Regions from separate parts of the Homo sapiens genome. Here all the other regions are linked to region 2. Evidence: fine-mapped expression QTL. A gene starts in region 2. Each other region holds a variant in brackets. All regions are shown on one strand. Distances are from middle to middle. Region 1 overlaps C5 (complement C5). Region 2 holds the start of C5 (complement C5). Region 3 overlaps CNTRL (centriolin). Region 4 holds the start of CNTRL (centriolin).

Region 1 (5,000 bases), 64 kb after region 2:
CTTCTCACCACCTCCACCACACTATCCTGTTCCAAGACACCTTCCTCTCCCACCTGGATTCTTACACTAGTCTCCCTTAGTCTTCTGGGTTCAGCCCTTGATCCTCTTCAGTATATACTCAACACAGCAACTGAAGTGACCCTGTTAAAACATATGTTAGATCATGCCACTCAAAACCATTTAGGAGCTTCCCATCTTACCCAGAGTAAAAACCAAACTTTTTATTGTGATTTACAAAGCTCTGTATGATCTGGCTCCACCTCATGTCTCCTACTTTATCTCCTATACTCTCTTTCCCTCCAATTCAGCCCCACTAGCCTTCCTCAAACACACCAGGCATGCTTCCACCTCAGGGCCTTTGCACTGTTTTCTCAGTCTGGAATACTCCTCCTTAGGTGTCAGCATGACTGGCTCTCATATTTCCCTCAGGTCTTTACCAAATGTCACCTTGGGGAGGCCTCTGCTATATCATAATGTCTAAAATTGCAATCCACTCCCCTCCCAACACCTCATATCGTTTCTTTTCTCCTCAGTGTGATTACTAACGTTCTTGCTTATTCCACTATTGTGTATCTCCCCCACTGGAATATAAGCTCCATGCGGGAAGTTCTAAGTATCCCTAGTGCCTGGTACCTACCTGGCACATAGTAGATGCTCAGTAAGTATTTATTCAATGAAACATATCTTCCAAAATTCTGATGATTTGAGGGAAAGATAGTCTGAATTAATTAAGAGTCCATATGGCAGTCTATTTTCAAAAAATACCGGCTGGGCATGGTGGCTCACGCCTGTAATCCCAGCACTTTGGGAGGACAAGGCGGGCGGATCATGAGGTCAAGAGATCGAGACCATCCTGGCCAACATGGTGAAACCCCGTCTCTATGAAAAATACAAAAATTAGCTGGGCGTAGTGGCATGTGCCTGTAGTCCCAGCTACTCAGGAGGCTGAGGCAGGAGAATCACTTAAACCCAGGAGGCAAGGGTTACAGTGAGCCGAGATCGCGCTACTGCACTCCAGCCCGGGTGACAGAGTGAGACTCTGTCTCAAAAAACAAAACAAAACAAAACAAAAAAACCATCATGCTATGACAAAATATTTAATAAAAACGGTGTGCCAGCTGCTTTGTAGGTTCTATATGAAACATATTTAAGGAGTTTACAACCTAGAATACTTTAATTTTAGATTTTTTTCTTTTTTCTTTTTTCTTTTTTTTTTTTTTGAGACGGAGTCTTGCTCTGTTCCCAGGCTGGAGTGCAGTGGCACGATCTCGGCTCACTGCAACCTCCGCCTCCCGGGTTCAAGCGATTCTCCTGGCTCAGCCTCCTGAGAGCTGGGATTACAGGCGCGCACCACCATGCCTAATTTTTGTATTTTTAGTAGAGGTGGGGTTTCACCATGTTGGCCAGGATGGTCTCGATCTCCGGACCTCGTGATCCACCCACCTCAACCTCCCAAAGGGCTGGGATTACAGGCATGAGCCACTGCGCCTGGCCAGTTTTTTTTCTTTAGCTATTGAGATCTCCCAGAATTTTATCTTTGGCCCTCTTATTTTCTGTAATCTCCCCTGGTACAGTCTCATTATTGCCCATGATTTCCATAACATCTAGGCCAATGGCCCCCTAATCAATGTCTCAAGGCCTAACTTCTTTCCTAAGAAGTTAGGAAATGTCCTAGATCCATATTTCTAGGTTTCCGGAAGCCAAAGATCCTTCAAGCACAATATGTGCCAAATTCATTATTTTCTTCCTCAAATACACTTCTGTTTCTTTACTCAGTGCACAACAATACCCTGCCCTTTGTCCCCCATGGATCAAGTCAGAATCATCAGTTGGTTTTTGATTCCTTCCTTTCCTTTTGGCTTTACCTCTGATCAGCTACCAAGTTCCATAGATTATACCTTAGGATTAGGTCTGACCATGTGTGGGTGACACACTTCAAAAGACACACAGGGCCAGATACAGTGGCTCACACCTATAATCCTAGCACTTTGGGAGGCTGAAGCAGGAGGATGGCTTGAGCAGAGGAGTTCCAGACCAGACTGGGTAACATAGGGAGACCCTGTCTTTAATAAAACAATAAAAATATAAAAAAATAAATAAAAGGCTCATAGACCCCTGCAGCACACCAACCAGAGGATAACCCAGGATGCAGGAGTGGGAGTGAGTGTCAATGAAGACTGGAAACTGACACAGCAGGACCTGGGAAATAGATGCCTGGAGAGCAGAAAGCCCCACAGGAAGGTACAACAGCCTCTCAGTAAACACTCAGAGCCTTTCAAGAGTTTGGGGCAAGACTGAAACATACACCCAACTCCATGAGTTCCTTGAAAGAAATAATAGACATAGAAGAAAATGTCCAGCACCTAAATACCCTCAAACTTTTCTTGAGAAATACAAAGCAGATTTTTTAAAGTACGAATATCATTCATATTAGCAAAACCCAAAATTGATGATGATGAACATTTTTTATATTCGTCTTTTTTTTTTTTTAAAGAACATTGTGGATATTGAACTTTTCTCTTTAACTACAAGCCTCCATCTTATTTCTGTTTCTTTCCCCCAAGGGCATTCACTATCATGAGTTTATGCATCTTTCCAGAACATTTTTAATATTTTATATAGTATATATATACATGAAATCATATAGCTGTAACTTAACTCCAGTTTGGCTGCTCACTGCTCAAATGCCAAACTCAAGAGACTAAGGTTGGTGGGAGGAAAAGCAGGTTAATTCAGGAGCCAGCAACCCAAGGAGATGGCAGACTAGAGTCAGGAAACTATCCCAAATGCCCTAGGCTGGCCAGAGGGATTTTAAAGAGGAAGGGGCTTGGAAAACTGTGTGCAAGAGTTAGCTACGTACAGGTCAGCATGTCTTGTTCTGATTATTATCTTGAGTAACGGGCCATCTAGTGGTCAGCTAGACTGAAACAGGTTTGTAGATTAACTGCTCAGTATTTTTCTTCTCCAGGGGACATTTCACA[T/A]CCTTGATTTTTATCTCATGGCTAGTTCCTGGAATTCTTAAGTAAGCACTGTTTAAGAAAGTTAAGCATTGTAAAAGAAAGAATGGTTATTTGCTTCCAAAATGAAGTGATGGGTTTACAGTCCCTTTTTGTATTTCTAAATGATTATAACTAGTATCATACTATACCTATCATTCTGTAACTTACCTTTTTCTTTTAATACTTTTTAGTTACTTTAGATCTAGTAGTATAGGTAAATATAGCTCACTCCTTTTCATTGCCATGCAGTATTTTATTTTACAAATATATCACATAGTATATATTCTTTATCTATTCCTATCTTGATGGACAACCATTTCCAAATTTTAATATTACAAACAATATGATAATGAACATCTTCATATGTCTCTTTGTGCACATGTGTGAGAGTTTCTCTAGGGTATATCCCAGGAGATAGAATTGCTGGAACATAAGGAATGCATATTTACAGTTTCATCAGATTTTGCCAGATTTCTCTTCAAGGTGACTAAAAAATTCTTTTCTACTCTAAATTTTTAGTCCCAGACCCTACTGTAAAACATGAGGAACTAAACTAGACCATATTAAGCACTTGTAGAGGTAGCCTAGGGTCTGGAACAAAAGCAAATCAAATAGCCTACTTCTTTTTTTCCTCCATGTCACACTTAAAATTTGAATTTCAGGGCAGTCTCCAAGGGACAGGTCAGTGGGAAGAGGAGAACGCAAAAAGCTAGAGCGAATTGTATTTGCTTTACCTTTAGGGAAGTGCTGTCTAGACTCTCACTCCTTAAGGATACCAGGGATGAGACACCCAAGAGTACCAAAGAGAAAGAGAGATAGGAGTAAGAGCTTATAAAAACCAGGTGCAGTGGCTCACACCTATAATCCCAGCACTTTGGGAGGCTGAGGCGGGTGGATCACCTGAGGTCAGGAGTTTGAGACCAGCCTGGCCAACATGGTGAAACCCTGTCTCTACTAAAAATACAAAAATTAGCTTGGCATGGTGGCACGTGCCTGTAGTCCCACCTACTCAGGAGGCTGAGGCAGGAGAATCGCTTGAACCTGGGAGGTGGAAGCTGTAGTGAGCCAAGATTGCGCCATTGCACTCCAGCCTGGGCAACAGAGAGAGAGTCCGTCTGAAAAAAAAAAAAAAAAAAAAAAAAAGTAAGAGCTTATACCTATTGAATACTTACTATAATCCAGAACTATTTTAAGTATGTTCATATATTTAATCTTTATAATTGATCCCAAAGGATGAGTCCGTTGTTTCTATTTATTGCCATTGCCTTTTTTCAAAGATGTAACTAAAGCATCTTTATATATACAGATGTATAGATAAGTGGAGAGGCAGCCTGGCCGTATAACTGCACTCATATGCCTTTCTAGCCTGCTAAAAGAAGAGAGACTTCCAAAAGCCAAAATCCCAAGAGAGACCCAATGTAAAATGTGGGCCAATCTTTGAAAATGTGAGTGTCCTTGAACCTGAGCAATCCGTAGAAGTATTTCTCATCCTTGAGAGCAGTGTGGGAGGATTAAAAAGAGAGGAGCTCTCAACTCTTACCCCCTAAAAGTCAATAGAGTAGAAAATAAATTTCTGATGTTTCTAGAGAAAGAATTAGGAAAAGGCACCTAGTTGTGGAGGGGCAAGTTCCGATTAATATCAAAAAAAAAATCTTTAAAATAATTAAATCAATTAGAGCAAAGACTGAGAACAACCTAAATGTCTACAGAAAGGGAAATGGCTTAAATAGCTTTGGTGCATCTGTACCAAAATACTATAATTTAATGTATAAAATCACTTGTAAAAGAACAAGGAAACTTTATGTATTAATATAGATCTCTAAGGCATATTACTAAATGGAAAAAAAGCCAAGTACAGGATAATGTAAACATTCTCCCACCATTTTGGTGTGGTTGGGATGGAAAGGTAGATGGGAAGGCTATATCTTGTATCTACTATTTGGAAGAAAGCACAAGAAACAATGGTCATCTTCTGTTGGGAGGTGGAGGGGGACAGGGACT
Region 2 (5,000 bases):
CTCTAAATTTACAACCCATTAATATACCTCCCTGTAAGCTGTCTGATTTTGAAAATTATACATGATAAAATCTTTTTATTATACATAAAAAAGAGTTCTGTAGTTTGTATTAATAGAAAATTGGTGTCCAGACATATTTTACCAAGTAAGTACAAAATAACTAAAGAATATCCATTTGAAAGATACAAAATTATTATCCTGCTAGGAGCACCTTGGTGTCAAGGTGACTTCAGGGAATAATCAGGTAATTCAGCTCCTTGGCCGGAGTGAAGAATGGAATGTTGAGGCTGGAGAACTAAGCAGGGCTCAAGAGGGGCCTGGTGCACTAGGCTAGGTCATTTGGGCTCAATCATGAGGGGACAATTGAGGCAGCATTAGCAGGAAGGTCAGGTGACCACCAAACTTTCTGCCAGATCTGAGTTTCTTCTCTTTTAGAAATGCAGTATTTGTATAAAAATGAAAGGCTTACCAAAGGTCACATTTTAAATTATAAAGAAAAAAAATCATCTTTTTTTTTTTTTTTTTTTTCTGAGATGGAGTCTGGCTCTGTTGCTCAGGCTGGAGTGCGGTGGCGTGATCTGTGCTCAACCTCCACCTCCCAGGTTCAAGTGAATCTCCTGCCTCAGCCTCCCAAGTAGCTGGGATTACAGGCACCCGCCACCACGCCTGGCTAATTTTTGTATTTTTAGTAGAGGCGGGTTTTCGCCATGTTGGCCAGGCTGGTCTTGAACTCTTGACCTCAGGTGATCCACCCACCTCGGCCTCCCAAAGATCTGGGATTACAGGTGTGAGCCAGCGTGCCCAGCCTCAAAAGTTCATCTGTGAGCCACATTTAGAAGGTAGATAAAAAATTTTGACTAAACACAGCTTAGAATCTATAAATTGTTAAACTTCAGTTCTGTTGAGAATCTTTGAGATCCATCATTCTCTAAATGTTTTCTACCAGAGAAACAGGACAATGGCTTGCAAATATTGGTTATCAGTATTTACTCTATAGCTCAAGCAAACAAACTTATTTGCACTTAAAATACAAATATTACCTACCTTGATTTGAGTGTTGTTGTTCTCTCTTAAATTTCATTTCCCAAAAATGATGGCAAAAGTACTGTTTGTTTTAACTTGACCCATCTTTTGCAACCCAGCTTAATCATTTCACAGATTCCCTTTTGAAATAAATGGGCTAGATGATCAGACAATAGTGGCAAATGTTTGTCATTTCAATGACATATGCAAGAGATACCTTTAGTGAAATTTGTATATCAAATTTCCCTTTGTGCTCCTTTTTTCCCTAGTGAATTCAGCATTAAAGTGTTTATAAATATTTTTGGTTTATTATTTATTAATTCAAAGCAAAGAATGCCAATGTGACCATAAATATCTCATTTATATATCATAAATATCTCATTATAGAAATATGTTTAGAGACATCTGTTTTATTATTTTAAAGAAGAGTACATATTATATATTAAGGTAAAAATAGTACTAAAAAAGAGAAGGTAGTAAATAAAAAAATTCTAATGAACATAAAACATCATAAAAATTAACTTAATTAAAAATCAGCCAGGCACAGTGGCTCATGCCTGTAATCCCAGTACTTTGGGAGGCCAAGGTGGGTGGATCACCTGAGGTCAGGAGTTCGAGACCAGCCTGGCCAACACGGTGAAACCCTACCTCTACTAAAAATACAAAAAATTAGCTGGATGTGATGGGACATGCCTGTAGTCCCAGCTACTTGGGAGGCTGAGGCAGGAGAATGCCTTGAACCTGGGAGGCAGAGGTTGCCCTGAGCCAAGATAGTGCCACTAGACTCCAGCCTGGGCGACAGAAAGAGACTCTGTCTCCAAAAAAAAAAAAAAAAGTATAAAGATAAAATTTTAGTATATTGTGAATTAATTACTAGACTCAATTGTTATAGGAAGCTTTGTTTTTCTGGAGCTCTTATATTAAAATTATTAAAATCCTCACTGAAAAGTATAACATGTGTTTTCTTTAAAAGAAAGATATTCTATATCTGAATAAAGACAAACTTTGAACGAGTGGTATATGCCTTAATAAATATTGGAGAATATCTATTCTCCAATACTTAGAGAATGACGACAGCATCCTCCACATGGCGTTTTCATTGCCAGTCACAACTTTCCTCCACCTAGTGTTCTCTAGACTGAGACAGACCAAGGAACAATTCCCTAGACCTCCTTTGCAGAGCTAGGTTATGCTCAGACCATTTGCAGCACCAAGGACACTGCCATTCAGGTCACCAAAAAAAGATCATCTTGTGAGCCCTGTCTAAACCAGGCCCCTTCTAAAATCATTTCAGTGTGAAACTGAGTCCAGGTGGGTCTTCATCAGTATTAGAGTGGACCTGCCAGATGTATGCTTGCAGATGATGCAACATCAAAGCAAATGCCCTGGGCAAGAGAAGAAAGGCCAAAGCAATGGGCTTACTGGTTTCTAGCTTTGAGCCACTCTTCATAGTGCCAAATTCCCATTTTAGGGTCCCTTTATTTGTATTAATAAAAATAAATTCCCTGGGTGTAAGTTCCTGTAAAGTACTCCCTATCTGTATTCCTGGGCATGAAAGGGTGTTTTAGTTCCAATTCTAGTTTTCCCACTTAGAGGTTCACCTTTCTGACATTAATAATTAACCAGATTATCTGAATTCTTCAAGTTCAGTTTATTTAAAAGGAGACTATCCTCAAAAGTGTTATATCCGTGGTTTCCTGCTACCTCCAACCATGGGCCTTTTGGGAATACTTTGTTTTTTAATCTTCCTGGGGAAAACCTGGGGACAGGAGCAAACGTAAGTAAAACAAGCTATCTTCATTTTTCAATGCATCTTAGTTATGACGAATGAAGAGTTAAATTTAACAGATTCTGTTAACTTGAAAATAACTTGCTACTTCTGAGAACAGCAAGTGAATAGTATCATCTCTGAATGAGAAAGTCATGGAAGCATTTTGATTTGATGAGTAGCTAACAACATGACAGCTTTTATGGAATTGTTATTTATTAAAATTTACGTTAAGTGATTATTCAAATTCCTCTTCAAAAAAGCACAAAAGAAACTCCAGATAATAAACTTTCTTGACATTTTTTGCTTATTTTAACTTGGTGTTTAGTTTTCTTTGTGTTTTTCATAGACTATACACAGTTAAACCAGGGTTATTTAGGAGTCAATCTAATACTGTGATCTGAAAATCTGTTGTTGTAGTGACTTCTACCATACATTTATGAGCTGACTTTTCACAATTTTTAGTGTCATTATTGAGATAATATGCATTTTAAGTAATGTTTTAAAAATAATGATCTTATATCTAGAAATATTTTAATACTGAAAAGTAACTGCAGATCATCTAATCAAACCTATTCATTTTATATATGAGAATAAGTCCAGATAAGGGAAGTGACTGACCAAAGGTCACAGTTCTAGAGAGAGAGAAACAGGATTTTTATTAAGGTCTCCTGTTTATCACTTCAATTTTTTTCATTTTGTCATAAATGTATACATGTAAATATATTATATATAAACACATACTTAGGATGTCATTCTTTTTTAGCACCCTCGTATTTCTGATCTGTGATCTTTTTACATGGCCACAAGCACTCAACTACCTTAGCATCCTGCCTTTATTCTTTTTGAAAGACGAGCAGCTAAGGCTTAGAGAGACTGAAATTAAGTGACTTCAAATTGGTGGCAGAACTAGGGCTAGGACCTGGGTTCCATGATTCTTGTCCAGACTTATTCTGAATTCTTTCTACTAGCCCTTAATAAAAATTATTTCCTCACTTTCTCTGAAGAAGTCAGAGTGTACCATTTACAACATGGCAATCAATCACTTTAATTAATTGGTTGATTGATTGATTCAACAAATATTTATTGAGCATCTAAACATATGATAGGCACTGCAGATATAGCAAACGGTAAGACAATTCCTAGAGCTTGCATTCTAGTGGGAGAAGCAAGTAATGAATGAATGAACCAATGAAAGAATGTGTAAGGTCAGGTAGGTAGTATTATGAAGAAAAAAATAAAGCAGAGTATGAGAATTAAAAAATAATTATGGGGCACTATTTTAAAATGTGGCCAGGAAAGGTTCTCTTAAGGAGGCTGCACTCAAACAGAGCCTGAAGGAAGTGAGGAAGCAAACCATGCAAATATTTGAGGAAAGAGCATTCCAGATAGAGGCCAAAATAACATTCTTGCCTCTCTGCAAGCTCCTGCTCCTCTGCAGCAATTGAAAGACAAAGAAAACTATGAAATTATTTATATGGATAGATTATGCTACTGATAAGTCAATAAGAACCAAAATCTTTATAAAGGGTGGTTCCAGAATATTCTTTTAGGGGCTTCTAAACACTATGTATTTTTGCTTGACGGCTACCATCACATAGACCAGCAGTCCCCAACCATTTTGGCACTAGGGACAGGTTTTGTGGAAGACAATGTTTCCATGGACCAGGATTGGGGTGGGGATGGTTTCAGAATGAAACTGTTCCACTTCAGATCATCAGGCATTATATTCTCATAAGGAGCTTGCAATCTAGATCCCTCGCATGTGCGGTTCACAATAGAGTTCATGCTCCTAGGAGAATCTAATGCCACCACTGATCTGACAGGAGGCAGAGCTCAGGTGGTAATGCTCCTTTGCCCCACTGCTCACCTCCTGCTGTGTAGCCTGGTTCCTAACAAGCCATGGACTGGTATTTGTCCATGGCCCAGGGGTTGGGGACCCCTACCATACACAATTCAAAATTAAAGCAATACTAAACTTAAAAACATAAAGCTTCTATAAATACTGAAATTAAAGTAGCTTTATATCCCTAAATTTTTCTAATTACAAAACTCTTTATAAATTCCATTTAGTACAACAGTTGAAAATGTTAATTCTGGAAACGGGCTGCTCAGGTTCGATTTCTAATTCTATAATTTGTGAATTATAGAATTCATAAATCCTATATGTGTGGCCTTGGGAAAATTAATTAGCAGTTTCTTCACCTTA
Region 3 (5,264 bases), 82 kb before region 2:
GCACTCTCTAATATTAAGGATGATAAGAGTACCTTAAATGAGTGCTAACAAGAATATAAGTACATATTTATTAGCATACCATGGTTCTGATTCATTTTAGTCCATTTGTGTTTTGTGATTAAACCTTATCTCTTTCATCTATTTACTTGGGATCAAACTATTACAGATTAAAGAGGAGGATTCTACGATGAGAACTTCTACAAAAGAATTGTCCAAAAACCACTTGGCAATTCAATCATTTGGGCTGCTTGTTTAAAATATAGATACTACATATAACCAACCAAAGATTATTATCCAGAATATGTAAAGAATTCCTACAAATCTTTAAGAAAAGGCAGAGACAGTTCAACAAAAAATAGAATAGGGAATTCACTCAAGAGGAAACTTGAACAGCAAATGAAAGGTGATCAGCCTCTCCAGTAACCAGGGGAAAATGCAGTTAACTTAAGATACTATTTTACATAGAACATAGAGATACAAGTTAAACACACCATGAGGAAACAATCAGTCAAACCCAGAACGTGGTTCAATCTACAGAATACCAGCCTGGATTTCACACACGCATGTGCACACACACACACATTCTTGGGACAATCAAGAAAATCTGAATATGGTTCAGATATTAGAGGACCTTAGGGCCGGGTACAGTGGCTCATGCCTGTAATCCCAGCACTTTGGGAGGCCAAGGCGGGTGGATCACGAAGTCAGGAGATTGAGACCATCCTGGCCAACATGGTGAAACCTATCTCTACCAAAACACACACACAAAAAAATTAGCCAGGCGTGGTGGCACACGCCTGTAGTCCCAGCTACTTAGGAGGCTGAGGCAGCGGAATCACTTGAACCTGGGAGGCGGAGGTTGCAGTGAGCGAAGATCATGCCACTGCATTCCCAGCCTGGTGACAGAGCAAGACTCCATCTCAAAAAAAAAAAAAAATAATAATGATATTAGAGGACATTAGGGAATTACCGTCATTTTTCTTAGGTGTAATAATGATATCGTAGTGATGCAGGAAAATGCTCTTAAAAAAATGTGTGTTGAAGGGATGATGTTATGATATCTACAACTTTCTAATGAGCAAAGGAAAAAAGTATGTGTCTATGAGAAAGAGAAAATAAATAAATCAAAATATTTATTGAATCCAAGAGGTTCACAGATGTTCACCAAACTATTTGTTCAACTTTCTTGTAACTGTAAACATCTTCACAATAGAAAGATGGAAAGAAGTCCTTTAAAGCTCAGCAGACTGGCAAACATGAAGTCTGATAAAATACTGAATTTCCTAAATTTGATAATTATTCTGTGTTTATGTTAGAAAATGTCCTTGTTCATAGGAAATACATACTGAAATATTTAGAAGCAAAGGAGCATGATGTCTACAACTGATTTCCAAATGGTTCAGGAAAAAAAATCTGTATAAAAATATATATAAAATTGAATCCCGTTCCGAGATGGCCAAATAGGAACAGCTTGGTCTGCAGCTCCCAGCGTGATCGACGCAGACGACGGGTGATTTCTGCATTTCCAACTGAGGTACCTGGTTTATCTCATTGGCACTGATTGGACAGTGGGTGCAGCCCATGGAGGGCGACCCGAAGCAGGGCAGGGCATCGCCTCACCCAGGAAATGCAAGGCGTCGGGGGATTTCCCTTTCCTAGCCAAGGGAAGCCGTACATTCACAGAAGACAGTACCTGGAAAAACAGGACACTCTCACCCAAATACTGTGCTTTTCCAATGGTCTTAGCAAACAGCACACCAGGAGATCATATCCCACACCTGGCTCAGCAGGTCCCATGCTCACAGAGCCTTGCTCACTGCTAGTGTAGCAGTCTGAGATAGACCTTGGAGGCAGCAGCCTGGCAGGGGGAGGGGCGTTCACCATTGCTGAGGCTTGAGTAGGTAAACACAGCAGCCAGGAAGCTCGAACTGGGCGGAGCCCACCGCAGCTCAGCAAGACCTCTGCCTCTACATGTAGACTCCACCTTTAGGAGCAGGGCATAGCTGAACAAAAGGCAGCAGAAACTTCTGCAGACTCAAACGTCCCTGTAGGACAGCTCTGAAGAGAGCAGTGGTTCTCCCAGCACAGTGTTTGAGCTCAGAGAACGGACAGACTGCCTCCTCAAGTGGGTCCCTGACCCCCGTGTAGCCTAACTGGGAGACACCTCCCAGTAGGGGCCAACTGACACATCATACAGGCGGGTGCCCCTCTGGGAAGAAGCTTCCAGAGGAAGGATTAGGCAGCAATATTTGCTGTTCTGCAGCCTCTACTTGTGATACCGAGGCAAACAGGGTCTGGAGTGGACCTCTAGCAAACTCCAACAGACCAGCAGCTGAGGGACCTGACTGTTAGAAGGAAAACTAACAAACAGAAAGGAATAGCCTTAACATCAACAAAAAGGACATCCACACCAAAACCCCATCTGGAGGTAGACCAAAGACCAAAGGCCAAAGGTAGATAAAACCACAAAGATGGGGAGAAACCACAGCAGAAAAGCTGAAAATTCTAAAAACCGAGCGCCTCTTCTCCTCCAAAGGATGGCAGCTTCTCACCAGCAACAGAACAAAGCTGGATGGAGAATGACTCTGATGAGCTGACAGAAGTAGGCTTCAGAAGGTCAGTAATAACAAACTTCTTCAAGCTAAAGGA[C/T]GATGTTTGAACCCATTGAAAGGAAGCTAAAAACCTTGAAAAAAGATTAGACGAATGGCTAATTAGAATAAAGAGTGTAGAGAAGACCTTAAATGACCTGATGGAGCTGAAAACCATGGCATGAGAACTACGTAACACATGCACAAGCTTCAGTAGCCAATTTGATCAAGTGGAAGAAAGGGTATCAGTGACTGAAGATCAAATTAACGAAATAAAGCAAGAAGAGAAGTTTAGAGAAAAAAGAGTAAAAAGAAATGAACAAAGCCTCCAAGAAATATGGGACTATGTGAAAAGACCAAATCTACGTTTGAATGGTGTACCTGAAAAGTGACAGGGAGAATGGAACTAAGTTGGAAAACACTCTTCAGGATATTATCCAGGAGAACTTCCCTAACCTAGCAAGGCAGGCCAACATTCAAATTCAGGAAATACAGAGAACACCACAAAGATACTCCTCGAGAAGAGCAACTCCAAGACACATAATTGTCAGATTCCCTAAGGTTGACATGAAGGAAAAAATGTAAGGGCAGCCAGAGAGAAAGGCTGGGTTACCCACAAAGGGAAGCCCATCAGACTAACAGCAGATCTCTCAGAAACTCTACAAGCCAGAAGAGAGTAGAGGCCAATATTCAACATTCTTAAAAGAAAATAATTTTCAACCCAGAATCTCATATTCAACCAAACTAAGCTTCATGAGTGAAGGAGAAATAAAATCCTTTACAGACAAGCAAATGCTGAGAGATTTTGTCACCACCAGGCCTGCCTTACAAGAGCTCCTGAAGGAAGCACTAAACATGGAAAGGAACAACCCGTACCAGCCACTGCAAAAACATGCCAAATTGTAAAGACCATCAATGCCAGGAAGAAACTGCATCAACTAACGGACAAAATAACCAGCTAGCATCATAACAACAGGATCAAATCCACACATAACAATATTAACCTTAAATGTAAATGGGCTAAATGCCCCCAATTAAAAGACACAGACTGGCAAATTGGATAAAGAGTCAAGACCCATCAGTGTGCTATATTCAGGAGACCCATCTCATGTGCAGAGACACACATAGGTTCAAAATAAAGGAATGGAGGAAGATCTACCAAGCAAATGGAAAGCAAAAAAAAGCAGGGCCTGCAATCCTAGTCTCTGATAAAACAGACTTTAAACCAACAAAGATCAAAAGCGACAAAGAAGGGTATTACATAATGGTGAAGGGATCAATTCAACAAGAAGGGCTGACTATCCTAAACATATATGCACCCAATACAGGAGAACCCAGATTCATAAAGCAAGTCCTTAGAGACCTACAAAGAGACTTAGACTCCTACACAATAATAATGGGAGACTTTAACACCCCACTGTCAATATTAGACAGATCAACAAGACAGAAGGTTAACAAGGATATCCAGGAATTGAACTCAGCTCTGCACCAAGCAGACCTAATAGATATCTACAGAATTCTCCACCCCAAATCAACAGAATATACATTCTTCTCAGCACCACATCTCACTTATTCCAAAATTGACCACATAGTTGGAAGTAAAGCACTCCTCAAAAAATGTAAAAGAACAGAAATCACAACAAACTGTCTCTCAGACCACAGTGCAATCAAATTAGAACTCAGGATTAAGAAACTCACTCAAAACCACTCAACCACATGGAAACTAAACGACCTGCTCCTAATGACTACTGGATACACAATGAAATGAAGGCAGAAATAAAGATGTTCTTTGAAACCAATGAGAACAAAGACACAACATACCAGAATCTCTAGGACACATTTAAAGCAGTGTGTAAAGGGAAATGTATAGCACTAAATGCCCACAAGAGAAAGCAGGAAAGATCTAAAATCAATACCCTAACAACACAACTAAAAGAACTAGAGAAGCAAGAGCAAACACATTCAAAAGCTAGCAGAAGGCAAGAAACAACTAAGATCAGAGCCAAACTAAAGGGGATAGAGACACAAAAAACCCTTCAAAAGAATCAGTGAATCCAGGAGCTGGTTTTTTGAAAAGATCAACAAAATAGATAGACCGCTAGCAAGACTAACAAAGAAGAAAAGAGGGTAGAATCAAATAGATGCAATAAAAAATGATAAAGAGGGTATCACCACCAATCCCACAGAGATACAAACTACCATCAGAGAATACTATAAACACCTTTATGCAAATAAACTAGAAAATCTAGAAGAAATGGATAAATTCCTGGACACATACACCCTCCCAAGACTAAACCAGGAAGAAGTTGAATCTCTGAATAGACCAATAACAGGATCTGAAATTGAGGCAATAATTAATAGCCTACCAACCAAAAAAACTCCAGGACCAGATGGATTCACAGCTGAATTCTACCAGAGGTACAAAGAGGAGCTGGTACCATTCCTTCTGAAACTCTTCCAATGAATAGAAAAAGAGGGAATCCTAACTCATTTTATGAGGCCAGCATCATCCTGATACCAAAGCCTGGCAGAGACACAACAAAAAAAGAGAATTTTAGACCAATATCCCTGATGAATATCGATGTGAAAATCCTCAATAAAATACTGGCAAACCGAATCCAGCAGCACATCAAAAAGCTTATCCACCACGATCAAGTCGGCTTCATCCCTGGGATG
Region 4 (5,262 bases), 22 kb before region 2:
CCGCACCCTAACTTCCACACCTCCCCACACTCTGGTTCTTCATCCCCAATCGCCCCCGCCGTCCCCACCTCTTCCCATCCAAACCTCCCTCCTTCATCCACCGCCCCACGCCCGTTCCGGGCCCTCCCCTCTTTCCCGTCCAATCCCAATTCCCAGACACGCGCCCCCGCCCCGAATCCATCCCAAGCCGGCCCACACCACGCCCGGTCCGGGCCTTCCCGCCTTTGCCGCCGGCCCCCACTGCTCGGGCCGGATGCCGGGGAACGGGCTCGGCCAGGTCTGACGCTCACCGCCTAGAAGCCGAGCCGAGCAGTCCCGCAGGCTGAGGTAGAGCGGGAGAAGTTCGGGCTCTTTCCTCAGGGGCCCAGCGGCGCGGCAGCCATTTTGTTGTGTTGTGCCGGTTGCCGAGGGGCCGCGCGCGCGTGGTCGGGGCTAGTCTCAGCCACGCCCCTCTCCCTCTCCGGTACTGTTGGAAGGGACGCGGAGGCGTTTCCCGCCTCTTTTGCAGCCAGCGCGCTAGGATGCCGGGGAGTCTTGGGCGCGAGGCTTCCGGCCGCGCGGGGCCGACGGGATGCGGTGCCTTCGCCTTCGGATTGCGTTGCAGGTGAAGTGTCGGGTGCAGAGTCAGGGGGAGCCGAGGTTTCATGCGGCAGCTGCCCGCAGTGCTGTGGCCTTCGCTGAGACAAAGCTGCCGCCGCCACCCTCTGAAACACGGACACGCTTCTCAGGGCCTGTGTCCGAGGACGGCCTGAGGCACCGGCGCAGCGCCTCCCCGGCCTCCCCCACTTCTGATGCTTGCGCGCTATGAGCGAGTGTTCTTATCAGCACACTTCTCTCTGACAGTCGTATCTAAAGCGAATTCCCTCCAGGGACCGAACTGCCCAGGCTCGGATGAACCTCAAAGCGGACGCAGCCTGGGCTCCAGCTGTCGCGTGAGGTTCAGGGAGCTTGGGAATCCTAGGCAGAGGATGTTCCTCTGATTGCTACAAGGGAGTTAAAGCAAGAAGCACTTGCACAGGCTTCATCTGGGGCTTGCCCATGAGCACGGCGTTCACGACATGCATTCAACAGATATTTTAAAGAATTTAGCAGATACTGGGCTGGATGCTAGGGAAACACTGAAGTTTTTTTTAAAGTGTTATCACCATTGACGCCTTTCACTCCAGTAGCCTCCCGTTTTGAAGGTATACCCTGGACCATGTTACCATCAGAGGCTGCACCCGCTCCAGAAATCCCCAGTGCAATCGCTCCCCATCCTTGACTATAATCCTATCATCTTAGCAGCGTGCCTGCTCAAAAGACCCCTATGCCAGCGTATTTCTAAACTTCCTTGCGTCTTCCAGTCCCTTGTTCTTACCATTTTCTCGCGATCATTCTATCCTGTCTTCATTTCCTTTCTTCACTACAGAGTTTATAGGCCACCTGTATAACACTTTTAGAAACTCCCTCTCTCTCTGTGTCTCAGTTTCCTTATCTATGAAATGAGGTCCTTTTACCTATTAACACTTCCTACAGTTTTCCTGATAATTATAAAAGTGAATCCTGGCCGGGCGCTGTGGCTCATGCCTGTAATCCCAGCACTTTGGGAGACCAAGGTGGGAGGATCACTTGAGGTCAGGAATTCAAGATCAGCCTGGCCAACAAGGTGAAACGCCGTCTCTACTAAAAATACAAAAATTACCCGGGCGTGGTGGCGCACGCTTGTCATCCCAGCTGCTTGAGAGGCTGCAGGAGGATCGCTTGAACCCGGGAGGCGGAGGTTGCAGTGAGCCGAGATCGCGCCACTGCACTCCAGCCTGGACGACAGAGCGAGACTCCATCTCAAAAAAAAAAAAAAAAAAAAAAAGTCCAGTTTTCCTGATAATTATAAAAGTGAATCTCTGTGAAAGAACTTAGAACAGTGAGGGACCCATAGTAAGTTCTCAATATGTCTTAGATATTTCATTATTAGACAAAGGTTACCCAGAAGCAATACTTCTTTCTACGCCCAAAAGAAGAGTTTAGGCAAGGAGTAGGGAGGTGGGGAAGAATTTGCTTGGCAAAGGGAACAACTTGTGCAAACCCCGGAAGCGGGGGAAAAGAGCTTGGCAATGTGCTGAATGTTAAGTAATTCAGTGTGGCTGGAACAAAACATGAGTATGGAAACATGAAGTAGTTCAGTATGGCTTGTGCAAAAATCTGGGGTGGAGAAGCTAAATCTGGAAAAGGGACCATATTATAAGCAGTATTAGGCACTTCATTTTTCCTTAAGGCAGAGATGGCTTCACCTCTATAGGAAATTCAGGGGACGTCCAACAGGGAATAAGCTGCAATAAACATGGGGATGCAGATGTGTCTTTGATTTACTTTGATTTACTGATTTCCTTTTCCTTTTACTTAAATGTGATTCCCATTGACATTTAAGTGAATGGTGCTGTCCTCTCCCCAACTATTTACACGACACAGAACGAAGCCCTTGGAGTTTAAACGCAGAATTTTTGAAAAGCTCCACTTAAGAGGAGATTACATTCATTTTTTTTCTTTTCTTTTTTTTTTTTTTTTTTTTAATTTTTTGAACAGAGTCTGGCTCTGTCACCCAGGCTGGAGTGCAGTGGCAGGATCTCGGCTCAGTGCAACCTCCGCCTCCCGGGTTCAAGCGATTCTCCTGCCTCAGCCTCCCGAGGAGTTGGGATTACAGGCACGCACCACCAAGGCCAGCTAATTTTTGTATTTTAGTAGAAACAGAGTTTCACCATGTTGGTCAGGCTGGTCTCAATCTCCTGACCTCACGTGATCCGCCCGCCTCGGCCTCCCAAAGTGCTGGGATTACAGGCGTGAGCCACCGCGCCCTGCCGAGATTACATTCATTTTTAATCGAAGTTCAGGTGATATTTATTAGATTGGAATGTGTACGTTGCTGAGTTTCAGTTCTATTTGCATATGTTTTGACACCCATCGTTTCGGTTTCTTGTACCCAGAAACTTAGATTTATTGCGTAACCTCATTGCTGTGTCCCTCAAAGTCTGTAATGGTATTCACGTGGGATCCATTATCAAGCCGTGGTGTGCTGATGTAGTTCATTATCAATCATATTAGTATCAATTAATAGCCATCAAATATACATAAAAAGTCCAGAGGGTGGCGCAAAACACTTTTCTCTTGGGTGATCTCTCAGTCCGTATCCAGTTAGCCGCGGATGGGCACTCACCGGTCCCATGTTGCCCCCTTTTCCTCCTCATACAGACCTCTGCTGGTGTCTAGCATCATCTCTAACGAAGCTAGAGACTTCAAAGGAGAGACCTTTCTCCAGTTAATTTGAATATTAACTGTCTCTCTTAGCATGCTAAAAGAACTTC[C/A]TTCTCCAAAGCAGAAGTGAGAATACGAAAGTAACGCAGACAACTCGCGTTCCACACTATTTTTCTTTATCTGATATTATGAAGAATGTACTCTGAGTTGCATTTACAATACAAATATTAGCCACGTCAGGGTGACCAAGCTTTTACTCAGTCTTTTTTCCAAATGATAGCAAAGCTATTCTGTTTAAACTTCCCTCAGCTTTTTGCAACCCAGTTTAATCATTTTGCGAATTTGTTTTAGAGAAGAAACAGACTAGTTTGTCAGACAGGGATGGCAACTTTCATTATTGCCATTTCTTTCTGTGACTGGCCAGTGTGATTTTGTTGTTTTGTTTTTTAAGACAAGGTCTCACTCTGTCACCCAGGTTTCAGTGCAGTGACACAATCATAACTCACTGCAGCCTTGACTTCTCAGACTCAAGTGATCCTCCTCCCTCAGCCTCCCAAATAGCTCAGTCTATAGGTGTGCACCACCACACCTAGCTAATTTTTAAACTTTTTGTAAAGATGGGGTCTTGCTGTGTTGCCCAGGCTGGTCTTAAACTCCTGGGCTCAAGCGATCCTCCCACCTCAACCTCCCAAAGTGCTGGGATTACACGCATGAGCCAGCATGCCCAGCCTGATTTTTTTTTAATTTTTATTCATTTATTTTTTTTTGTTTTTGTTGGTGTGTTTTGTTTTTTGTTCTTGTTTTTGTTTTTTTGAGACAGAGTCTCACTCTGTTGCCCAGGCTGGAGTGCAGTAGCACGATCATGGCTCACTGCAACCTCCACCTCCAGGGTTCAAACAATTTTTGTGCCTTAGCCTCCCCAGTAGCTGTGATTACAGGTGTGTGACTCCACGCCCAGCTATTTTTGTGTATGTGTGTGTATTTTTAGTACAGACAGTGCTTCACCATGTTGATCAGGCTGGTCTTCAACTCCTGGCCTCAAGTATCCGCTTGCCTTGGTCCCCCAAAGTGCTAGGTTTGTAGGTGTGAGTCACCATACCCAACCTTAATTTTTATTTTTAAATGACATGTAGTAACTGTACATATTTATGGGATACATAGTGATGTTTTAATACATATAAATGTATAGTGGTTGGAGTAATTAGCATATCCATCATCCCAAACATCATATGTTTATTTTAGGAAGATTTCATACCCTCCTTCTAGCTATTTGAAACTATATAATATATTATTGTTAACTATCCTCATCCTATAGTAAGTATAGAACACTAGAACTTATTGCTCCTATCTAGCTATAATTTTGTATCCTTTAAGATATCTTTCTCTCCTTCCCTTCCCCCTGCTACCCTTCCCAACCTTTAGTATCCTCTGTTCTACTGTTTACTCCTATGAGATCAACATTTTTCAGCTTCGACATATGACTGAGAACATGTGGCATTTAACTTACTGTTCCTGGCTTATTCACGTAATATACTGTCTTCCATTTCCATCCGTGTTGCTGTGAATTACAGTATTTCATTCTTTTTTATGGCTGAATAGTATTCCATTGTAAGTATGTATGTATATATATATGAATACGCACACACACACATATATATACACATACAGAATATACATATATATATACACATACAGAATATACATACATATATATATATATATATATATATATATATATATATATATATCACCCTTCCTTCCTTCCTTCTTTCTTTCTTTCAGAATTTTGTTCTTGTTGCCCAGGCTGCAGTGCAATGGCATGATCTCAGCTCACCGCAACCTCTGCCTCCTAGGTTCAAGCGATTCTCCTGCCTCAGCCTCCCGAGTAGCTGGGATTAGAGGCGCCTGCCAACATACCCAGCTAATTTTGTATTTTTAGTAGAGATGGGGTTTCTCCATGTTGGTCAGGCTAGTCTCGAACTCCTGACCTCAGGTGATCCACCTGCCTCGGCCTCTCAAAGTGCTGGGATTACAGGC

The links.
Region 1: its variant is fine-mapped to the expression of C5 in adrenal gland (GTEx, PIP above 0.99). The same link has a PIP of 0.9 or more in cerebellar hemisphere.
Region 3: its variant is fine-mapped to the expression of C5 in blood mononuclear cells (TOPMed, PIP 0.99).
Region 4: its variant is fine-mapped to the expression of C5 in whole blood (INTERVAL, PIP above 0.99).

The regions. Positions count from the first base shown.
Region 1 is chr9:120,983,857-120,988,856 of GRCh38, reverse strand. The region is part of intron 25 of C5 (complement C5); the gene reads left to right. Among named protein-coding and RNA genes, the nearest start is that of C5-OT1, 34 kb to the right of the region's middle. The variant T/A (reference allele first, on the strand shown) is at 2,982.
Region 2 is chr9:121,047,982-121,052,981 of GRCh38, reverse strand. C5 (complement C5) reads left to right here and starts at 2,707. Exons shown (of 41, transcript NM_001735.3): 1 at 2,707-2,800. The coding sequence starts at 2,736. LOC124902261 (a long non-coding RNA gene) reads right to left here and starts at 125. Exons shown (of 3, transcript XR_007061753.1): 1 at 1-125.
Region 3 is chr9:121,129,967-121,135,230 of GRCh38, reverse strand. The region is part of intron 14 of CNTRL (centriolin); the gene reads right to left. Among named protein-coding and RNA genes, the nearest start is that of CNTRL, 58 kb to the right of the region's middle. The variant C/T (reference allele first, on the strand shown) is at 2,650.
Region 4 is chr9:121,070,096-121,075,357 of GRCh38, reverse strand. CNTRL (centriolin) reads right to left here and starts at 403. Exons shown (of 44, transcript NM_007018.6): 1 at 291-403. It also overlaps a transcript of C5 not described here. RefSeq lists silencers at 1-138, 259-318, 943-1,139 and enhancers at 439-828, 3,182-3,231. The variant C/A (reference allele first, on the strand shown) is at 3,336.